Homo sapiens: one gene and its partners. The protein of the gene in region 1 purifies or fractionates together with the protein of each later gene. This does not show direct contact. Each region holds a gene or a part of one and is shown in the gene's direction. Other genes may lie near its edges.

Region 1 (3,655 bases):
GTATAGAAAAGAATATTATAATGAAAACATTAAAAATGATGTCACTGGTTGTCCAGGGTTCTGGGAAATTAATGGAGTTGAGATTTTCCTTTTGTCAACGAGATGTAGTTGTCAATCTGAGTTCTCTAAAAGGTTGGAATAATGTCTACTTGTTTTACTTTTAGAAAAATAAAAAGTAATGCTGTGTGGCTTAACAGTCATTGTGGCTTGAACATCATCCCCAGATCTTGTCTTTTTCCTTTAAATGAAGATGAGAGCACAGATAAGTAGTGTAGAAAGCATCCGAATCAGACTGCAGGTGGACTAAGTCACCTTTAATACTGATTGTACTTAATAAGGGGTCCTTTTGAAAATGATATTTTTTGTACAAGTGTCTTATTCACAGAAGTTGTGAAGTGAACAAAGGTTGCATCACATTTTGAATCATCCAAGCACATGTGCCTTTTTGAAGAAAATAAAGATACTGCAAGTTCTCAAGTGATGTGATATTATTACCACTTCAATACTAGGTGATAAGCAAGTGCTTATTATATTAAAAGAGAATATTAGAAAATAGTATATTAGGAGTGCACCTTAAGGACATTTTATTATATTGAGTGACCTTTTCAAAACAGAAATCAGAATCACTCTTTTGAGAAAAACAGTAGATAAAGATTGACTGGAGGAGCCATTGTTATGTATTACATTAAAATGAAGGGAAAGTTCAATAATTAAATCAATGCTTTGGATCTTTTTGTGATCCCTGTAAGAATTTATAGTGCCCATAAACTCTTTTACTTTTGTTACTTCCGTATAAACTGATAGAATTGGGGTCAGAAAAAATAATAAATGGCATAATGATACTTTTGGCTATTTGTTTCAGTAGAACATAATTTTTAAATACATTTTCATGAATCATTGGTTCTTCCTAGAAACAATTTACATGTGAAAGTGGATAAGGATAAGTAGGAAAGATGGTGTAGACTGCTTTGATCTTTATAGATATGAGTTTTTTTACATAGCCTGTATTGTGGAAAAATACTGAAGCCTGTTAAAAATGTAGATCAGTTTCCCATAATCATCAGTGTTTCAGAAGGTAATTTTTCCTAGGTAAACTCATTAAACTTACATTGTAATGAATGATTTGATAGATTATAAAAATTGTTTAACTCATATGCATAATTTTAAATGTCTGAATTTTTTTTTTTTTTTTTTTGGTTCACATCGGCAGCCACCCGTGGGAAACTGTTACAACAGCTGCAATGCAGAAATACCCAAACCCTATGAACCCAAGTGTGGTTGGAGTTGATGTGTTGGACAGACATATAGATCCCTCTGGAAAGTTGCACAGCCACAGACTTCTCAGCACAGAGTGGGGACTGCCTTCCATTGTGAAGTCTGTAAGTGTGTCTTTATTCCCGGAGAAATGTGACTGCTGTAGAGAAGTTTTCTAAACCGCATTATACTTTCAAATAGGTTGTGGGAGCCGATTCTGAATGTCATTTTTTGCATCCGTTCAAGTTGTATTATAATAAACTTGAATTATGAGTGTATAATGAATTGGAAATATTATTACAGTCTTCATGAAGGCACCCAATAAAATTTTCTTAAGGAAGCCAGCTAATGCCGTGTGATCTGAAAGGAGTTCTATTCTGCTTTTTCTGCTTTTGCCAGCAACTTGAGACCAATACTAAGGTTTGGCAGTAATGGTCTGGTCATAATTGTTAGGTGACAGTTCTGTGGTCAGTGGTGGGTTGTGTACATTAAGTAAGGACTATGTTCTCGGACTTGTTATTGCCACATTTGTTCCAAGGTCTGGAACTCCTTCCTGTACATTTAGAAACAATTCTATTCCCTTAAGAATGAGCAGGCTTTAGTGAGCAGATTTTACCAGGAAGAAACTAAAATGCCAGTTTACCATAATGCGAGAAAACTGGTATAATAAGTGGATCCAGGTTTCTTTAGAGGGTCTCTTTATGGAGAGTAGGTTCACTAAGAAAACTAAAGTACACATTTTCAATAGGAATGTACTTACTGCCTCCTTATGCAAACCATAGTGCAGACACAGAAATGAGCAGGGTCAGGGGGTGGGCTTGGGGTCATAGCACAGGGAGTGACAGTGGACACTGACGTGTGAGCCTCCATCGTAAGAACGCTGTTTTTCTGTCTGGAGAATGAAGCTGAGGTGCCCCCTCCCTTGGGCTGTTCTAGGAAGATACTGACAGATGCCTTTGAGTTCTCCTTTTTCTAGCTGCCATGTTGCCCCAAACCTGATTTCCATATCTCAGCCTCAGCGCTCCACCGTCGCACCGCGGCAGATTCAGCGTGCTGCCTCACGTTGCAGACGTTCTCAGTGGGCTGGTTTCTAATTGCCTCCGGGAAAAGTTTTTGTGTCTGGCAGTCTCCTCTCATCCATGATATGTGAATAGGCCTCCTTTCTGACCTTTGCTTGTTTCCTCTGGTTTTTAGAAAACAGATTTTTGGTTCAAAATATTGTAACACATTTTTTCCTTCAAATAAAATATTGATAGACTTGGTAAGAAATTCTTCCTCCTCTGATTCCTAGTTCTGAATGTTTTACTTAGCTTATTGGTGCAGCAAGAACGAAAACATATGTGCAAGAACATTCTGTAGTTGATCCTGTAGAGAAAACAATGGAACTTAAATCTACTAATGTAAGTCTTGGCTCCCTTTTGTTTCATTTCGAACTGTCTGGCTGAGTTCTTTGTCCCTCTCCTAGTTGCCGTAGAAGTGAGTGCGTGTTCATGATGTGGTTCAGAGAATCCCTGCTTATGTGCTGGCCTAACTTGGCCCTGGATGTTGCTTCCTTACCCTTCCTGCTCTCATGATCTTGCCTATCTCTAAGGGGATAGCACTCAATAAAATGAGTTTGGGATTATGTGTATTATCATTATTATACTTTATTTCCTCAACTTTGCTTTTTAAATAAAAAGTAGGCAGTGAATAGTTTATGCAATAATAGCAGCGGTTTATTTGTTGTTTTGTATGTTTAGTAAGATTTTGGCTTGTGTGTTGATTTTAGCAACATTTTGAATCTTCAGTTCCAAAATGATTTGATCTTTTTTTTTTTTCTTCATTCTGTAGATTTCATTTACAAACATGGTTTCAGTAGATGAGAGACTTATATACAAACCACATCCTCAGGATCCAGAAAAGTGAGTAAAAAATATTTTAACAAATGTATCGTAAAGGGTGTTTAAGGTTTTTTTATCAAGTTTTTTGAAAATGAAAGCTGGGTCATCTGAACCTGTGTGAATATGTTTTGTTCCAGAACTGTTTTGACACAAGAAGCCATAATTACCGTGAAAGGAGTTAGCCTCAGCAGTTACCTTGAAGGACTGATGGCAAGTACGATATCCTCAAATGCTAGTAAAGTAAGTGAGGCTGCTTCTTGGTTATTATTCCCTGGTTCATTTCCTGGGAATGGAATGGGGTGCTGACTGCATGTGTGTCCTTGTAAGCTGACCCTTGCCCATTCTACCATAGGAAACTGCAGCACGTTGGGCAGTTACTTACAAAGGCTCTGGGTTCACATCCAAGCTCTAACTTTTAGCCTTTTAACCTTGGGCAACTAAGTTAACCTTTCTATGCCTCAGTTTCCCGTTTTTAAAGTGGAGATTACCCGTTTTACAGGGTTGGCGTGGAGTGAATGAGA
Region 2 (2,515 bases), on another chromosome or scaffold:
TTCAGGAGGTCAAGACTGCAGTGAGCTGTGATCATACCACTGTACTCCAGCCTAGGTGAAAGAGGGAAACCCTGTCTCAAAAGAAAAAAAAAAAAAGAAGCAAGGCACATAGACAAATTTAAAATTTTTCACAGCTACATAAAAAAGTAAAAAGAAACAGACAAAATTATATTTTATTTCACCCCATTATATCTAAAATATTATTTTAACATGTAATCAACATAAAAATATTAAGATACATATGCTCTACAAGCAATGGGGTTACGTCCTGATAAATCCATCATAAATTGAAAATATTATAACTGAGAGAATGCATTTAATATTCTTAATCTACCAAATATCATAGCTGAGCCCAGCCTACCTTAAACATGTCACAACACTTAACGTTAGCCTACAGTGGGGTAAAATAATCTAACATAAAGCACATTTTATAATAAAGTGCTAAATATCCCATGTAATTTATCAAATACTGTACTGGAACTAAAAAAACGGAATGGTTGTACGGACACTGGCAGTATGGTTTCTACTGAATGTTTATCACTGTCACATCATCGGAAAACTGAAAAATCTTAATTCAAACCATCATAAGTCAGGGACCATCTGTATTTTACGTTTTTTGGATTTTCTTTGTACTAAATCTTCAAAATTCAGCATGTATTTTATATTTACAGCACATCTCAATTCAGGTGCTAAATTTCTATGAGAAACACATTCCTAAAGATGACAGTTGAAATAGATTTACACACCCAAGTTGTTCAAAACAAACTTAAAAGTTTTCTAGTAACTGCATTTCCAGTAACTGCATTGGGTATCTGTGTTTTTTTGTTTGTTTGTTTGTTTGTTTTTGTTTTTTTTTTAAACAGCTTCGTTGAGTTATTTACCTACAATAAACCGCACATATCTAAGTTGCACAATTTGTTAAGTTTGCTTTTCTTAAACTCTTTTATTTAGATAGAGATGGGGGTCTCACTATGTTGCCCAAGCTGGTCTTTAACTCCTGGGCTCAAGCAAGCTGCTCACCTCAGCCCTCCAAAATTTAAGTTTTGATATGTGTTACATCCATGAAATCATCACCACAATCATGATAATGTGTCTTGAATTCTCAGTATTTATTTATTTTTATTTTTTTGAGGTGGAGTCTTGTTCTGTCCCCAGACTGGAGTGCAGTGGCGCGATCTTGGCTCACTGCAGCCTCCGCCTCCCGAATTTAAGCGATTCTCCTGCCTCAGCCTCCCGAGTAGATCGGATTACAAGCGTGCATCACCATACCTGGATAATTTTTGTATTTTTAGTAGAGACAGGGTTTCGCCATGTTGGCCAGGCTGGTCTTGAACTCCTGACCTCAAGTGATCCACCCGCCTTGGCCCCTCAAAGTGCTGGGATTACAGGCATGAACCACTGCGCCTGGCCAAATTATCAGTATTTAAATTTAAATAAAATGTAAAAATTCATTCCTCAGCTGCACTGGCTGGACAGCCACACGCAGCCAGTGGCTACTGGATGGGACAACACATTCAAAACCATTATCCTGTTTTATCTTCAAAGCATTTACCACTGTCTGACTAGCTTCTCCAACGTGCGCCCTTCTTGCTCTCATATCATGTGTCTTATTTTCTTCTTATTCCTTCTGATTGGAAATGATCTCATTTGTGTGTGTGTGTTTTTCCCTGGTGACTGGTTGTCTTCCCTGGCAGAATATGAGCCCACCCAAGCTGGTGCTTCACTGGTCGTGTTCACAGTGTGTCTCCAGGGGCAGGTTCATAAGGGCACTAGGAGGAGGTTGTGAATGAAGGGAGGTGATGTTCACACTAAGACCTGAAAAATGTGTCCAGTTAATAAGTGGACAGGGACAAAGGTCGTTAGACAAAGAGGAGTGTAGGTGGCATCAGTTACCAGGGGAGGAAATGTTGATTCAGGACTGAGAGGCAAAGGGACCTGGCTAGAGGACGGGGTCCCAGAAGGTGGTTTAAGGACTGGTGTGGACACACACAGTTCTGTTGTCTGCCCAGCGGAGGGGCCTCACGGGGGGCCGTTGGGAGCCAGATTGTCAGCTTTTGGATTTACCAGCTGTGGGTGGCAGTGGGCGTGTAACTCAGCATCTTGCTGCCTCAGTTTCTCTCATCTGTAAAGTGGGGATAATAACATTTACCTCATAAAGTTCCTGCGAGGATTCGATGACTTGATACATCAGTTGCTTAGCACAGGGCTCAGCACTCAGTACATGTTCCCTGTCAGGAAGGCAGGGAGGCCTCACTGGCAGCATCAGGACATGGGACATCAGGACATACACCGTGGCTCTCAGGGAAAGGAAAAAGACCCTCTCCCAGGTGTACAAGCTCGATTCTAAACCTCATGGGACCCTGCATTGTTCGCTCCCTCATTCATTCACTAGTCCATGCGTGTACTCAGTAGTGGCATAAGCAGACTGCTCGGGTCGGACCTGAATTAGCCTCACCCACTCTCCTCCTACACTGTCCCTCCCCAGGGCACATTCGCCTCCCAGGTGACGCTGGAG
Region 3 (4,232 bases), on another chromosome or scaffold:
AAACGAGACATGAAGAGGTGAGTGCGGCCAGTGTTTGGAGGGGATGAAAGTCCTGGTCCCTACTTAGTCTCCTCTGACACCACCTCGCCCAGGGGACTGACTTACATCCTTAGAGCCTACAGATGGTGAAATGTAGGCTCCCTACTTGGCCTTTGATGGTGTAGTTGAAAAAGGTCCACAGGTTTTTTCTCATGGTGTTTGGCCACAGTGGAGCTATTATTGTGTGTAAATTTTCCATCTTGCTAAGCTGCCTCTCTCCTGATCCTTTGGCTAGAAAGAGGAGTCCTTTGTCAAGGCTTTTCCTGTCTCTGCCCCTTGACATTTCCGGGTTGTCATCTTCTTCAGCCAAAGTCTGGGAGAACCTCAGGAACCCATCATCATGCCAAGCCTTGAGTCCCAGGATCTCTAGCTGGTCTGCATTCTTCTGTCCACCTTTTTCTCATGCCTGTTTCAGAGATAATATCCGGGGGATTTCGTTGTACTTACTAGGAGGAATAGCTAAAAGTACATTGGCTCAACCTTCCCATTTGTGGAAGTCCCAAATTTTATTTTTAATTTGTTTTTTAATTGGAAAAAGAAGCAGATTCAACAGCGCCCTCATTTTAGCAGATATTTGCTACTATCAGTGTCTTTCTTCTTAAGAAAACTGTCCTTTTTGCTCAGGGAGATACCCAGCCGTCAACTGGGGAAGTTTGTGACAGCTCTCCCTCCCAGGTTCTGAGTGCTGTCCTCGGATGGATGGCCGCTCTCATAGGTTTTGAGATTTCTATGTGCGCACACGGTTCTAACAGAAGAGAGAGAAGACTAAGTCACAGTTAAGCAAAATGAGTTAAAGAAACGTGAAAACCAAAACCAAGAGAGAAAGTCCAAATAAAGGGAAAAGACTTAGGAGGTCAAAGCCAGCATCGTTCTGAGTGATCGACCATAACATGGTAGACCACAAACAAAAATGAAATCGACACAGGAAGCCAGAGGAGTGGCGCGCAACCAGTGGGGAGTGTCGGCATTGCCAGGAGTGAGGGCGTGAATGTGGGAAAGTGCGTGAACAACTTCAGGGCTCAGACCTACTGTACGCCAGCGAGAAAGGGAGGGGAGACGATGGTGGTTGGGGAGAGAGGAATTTTGTCGGAGTCACCTATGCTTCTGGGCACGAATGAGCGATAGAGCAGGATCCTCGAGCAACTGAGACTGGGGCCCGCCTGCAGGAGGCAGGAGCCAGGCAGAAAGGTGGGAGCGTTGGCCACGCGCTCCTGCAAGATCAGAGAGGACGGCGGGAGGGGACAGCGGGCGGTCGCAGCGCACAGAGCTTGCTGGCCAGGGAGGAGCTAGTCTCCGTGGGCGCCGCCGCCGCCCCAGCCTGCGCGCCTCTCTCCTGGCGCGCGCCAGTCTGGCACTCTGGGAGCTGGGTCCTAGCACCACAGACTTATCCTTCGCCTGCACTTTCCGTCTTTCTTCTCTGGGCGCCCACCAACAATGGATGGCAACTCCCTGCTCTCGGTACCAAGGTAAGACCCGCTTCTTTCTATGCCCAATACCATGTCGATCAAACTCCGTTCCGCGTTGTGAGTCGCTCACCAACTTGCCCCAGAGCGCTTCGGTTTGCACGGGGCTCCCAGCGAGGAGACAGGGGTCACTGCACTTGTAAATAAGTCCGGCCCAGCCTCGCTGGAGCTACAGGGGACCCTGTCAACTGCCCCACAGGGCGCGATGCTGAGTGGGGCCTGTGCGCTGGAGTGGCACGGGTTGGGGGTCAGCCCCGTGCCCGCCTCTAAGGCCCAGGGACGGAGGTCTGCTCTGCCCTAGGTGGAGCCAGGAGCCGGACTTTCCGCGGACACAGCTTGGAGAGGTTTCACACCTTGTGGAGAGACAGATTCCAAGGTCTAAAACAGGAGGGAACCGGGCTAGGGCAAAGTACCCCCGCTTTCCTTCCACCTTGACCTGGGCGGGTGTCTGGGGCTGCTGGGGTGGGGAAGATTGTCCCTCACCCCCGACCGACACCTAGACTGCCCCCAAAGCGAGATCTTAAGACAGGGCAGAAAACACCTAGGTCCCCTGCAGTCCCACAGTCCTCCACCGTCCCCACACCCCCTGCCAGTCTGCGAGTTCCTTCTTTAACACCTTTGGTTTTGCTCGTCCCCCACACCGGGGTAGGTCACGGACGCCACCCCAGGCGCTGCCGGGTGCGAGTAACGTGTTTTTCGGGGTGTGTTTCTTTCTCCTGTCTCTTTTTTGCCCCTGTTCCACACTCCTTCTAACTCAGTCCTTTGCGAAATTAAGAACCTGAGATTTTTATGTCTTTCCCATAAATGTCTGGGTAAATCGGGGCGGTGGTGCTGGGCCTGCTCCCCCAGCCGGGCAGGTGGCCTTTGCGCTCTTTGCGCTCGCTGGGCGCGGAGCGCTCGCGCCGGGAGCCAAGGATGCTGTTGCTCCCAGGGAGAGGGTGTCCTGGCTGCGGCGCAGCCCCACCTCTCCTGGGCAGCGGCTTAGCGTGGCTCTTCGTGCCATCCCTACTCCCTCTTTTCCCCAAGCAGGTAGGTAGGTAGCTTCCAGAGCAGAGCACCAGGCCCTAGAATAAACACTTTAAGTTCGGATTCTTGGAGAGCAGCAAAACCCAATATCCACTGGCCAGGGCACACATGGAGTGATACTACATTGCCAAGGAGCCGAGATGCGGTGGGAGGGGAGGTGGGGGTGGCGGAGGAGGAGAGAGACTGCTTTCCAAAGGCATTGAAGGCTGCCATCTAGAGACCTGAATTATTTGTATTCCGCGATGAAATAACGCTTTCTCAGCTCCACAGGCACTTCCTCCTTAAGCGTCCCTTCGCTGCGGGGATAGCAAATGGTTCAGAAAAGGCCCGCTGTGGTTTCTGTGCACTCCTTGAAGCAGCTCTTAAGTGAAGTCTCAATCCCCACCCTCCCGATCCCTGCCCCAGCGGAACAGGGTCAAAGGACCACCGCTGTCTTTCCATTTTGCCGATTTTTTAACTTAAAAAAAATTGCCAGTGATGTTTACGCAAAGGCATTAAGGTGTTTGGAAAGTCATGTAAATTGGAAGCTCACTTTCTCCACCTATCTATTCTACTGTCTAGGGCAAATGGTCATTAGAATTGAAACGGTGAATTGGGTGGTCCTAATAATCTTCCGACAGAGATTTTTGATAACAGATTGATTGCTTTAATCCGGTTTTACAGACCAATATAGCTGCGCCTGAATCCTGATTATATTTCTATTCAAATACCGGAACATTTTCTAAATTACTAGAAACACATTGTGCCAGTAATTTATTACAATTATTTCTGTCTCAGTACTATAAAATGACCTTATAAAGAGCAAAGCAACTCTGATGATATTGCTCTGTATCTTGTAGTGGCCTATCAAAATGTTAATATAGGCTTAATATCAGCTGCAGCAAACTAAGCTTTTTGAACCTGACTTTTTATTCACCAATTTCCACAAATCAGTGTAGTAATTTCCGGTATTTTATTAGCCTTCTTAATCCACAAATCAGTGTAGTAATTTCGGGTATTTTATTAGCATTCTTAATCATGTAAATTAACTCCTGTACATGAGTTGATTCAATCCTCTATTTCATTGTATACAAGAAACACCATTCCTTTTCTATAAGACTTAATTGAAAGCCATAGGGATTGGGATGCAAAAAGAAAATTAAAATTTTTAATGGTGTAGACAAATCATGTATTAGTCATGCTACTTGTTCACAAAACATTGCATTTTAAAGAATTGATTATTGAATATTCCACATAAGCTTTTCGAAGAAACCAACAATGATCAGCAAATATCAAATTGCTATTGTCAAGGCTTGTGATGTCCAAGTCTGAAAACATTTTTGGTATCTAATAAAATTAAGTTGGTGGTTATAAATCACTGTTTCTCTTAAGAATTAGAAAACAATTTAAGACATTCTACTTAATCATTAGAGAAAACAAAATGATTTAATAACATTGAGTTAATTATAGAATATATTTTATGTTGGCTTTTCCATTTTCTTAGAATTTTCAATTAAACACAAATATAAATTACTGAAATTTCAATCAAGCAATATTCTGTGATGATTGATATTAAAACTAAATTTGACTCATATACTTCAGAAACTGTAAAACATGTTTTTTTTTTTTAAGGAAATGTTTTGGGTTCTTTGAGTTATTAAACTGTATTCCCTTCCTTCTGTGAAAACTCTAATTCATTTTTACTATGAATATTTTCATTTTTAA

Evidence for each region.
Region 2: the proteins of PRELID3B (region 1) and ETFB purify together in Homo sapiens (co-immunoprecipitation; one large-scale study listed by IntAct). This does not show direct contact.
Region 3: the proteins of PRELID3B (region 1) and SPHKAP purify together in Homo sapiens (affinity purification with mass spectrometry; one large-scale study listed by BioGRID and IntAct). This does not show direct contact.

The regions. Positions count from the first base shown.
Region 1 is NC_000020.11:59,036,190-59,039,844, reverse strand, and holds part of PRELID3B (PRELI domain containing protein 3B), read left to right. Parts: intron 1-1,210; coding exon 1,211-1,379; intron 1,380-2,564; coding exon 2,565-2,654; intron 2,655-3,084; coding exon 3,085-3,155; intron 3,156-3,271; coding exon 3,272-3,374; intron 3,375-3,655.
Region 2 is NC_000019.10:51,347,029-51,349,543, reverse strand, and holds part of ETFB (electron transfer flavoprotein subunit beta), read left to right. Parts: intron 1-2,485; coding exon 2,486-2,515. UniProt on the Homo sapiens protein: Heterodimeric electron transfer flavoprotein that accepts electrons from several mitochondrial dehydrogenases, including acyl-CoA dehydrogenases, glutaryl-CoA and sarcosine dehydrogenase.
Region 3 is NC_000002.12:228,178,840-228,183,071, reverse strand, and holds the start of SPHKAP (A-kinase anchor protein SPHKAP), read left to right. Parts: upstream 1-1,384; 5' UTR 1,385-1,473; coding exon 1,474-1,505; intron 1,506-4,232. UniProt on the Homo sapiens protein: Anchoring protein that binds preferentially to the type I regulatory subunit of c-AMP-dependent protein kinase (PKA type I) and targets it to distinct subcellular compartments. May act as a converging factor linking cAMP and sphingosine signaling pathways.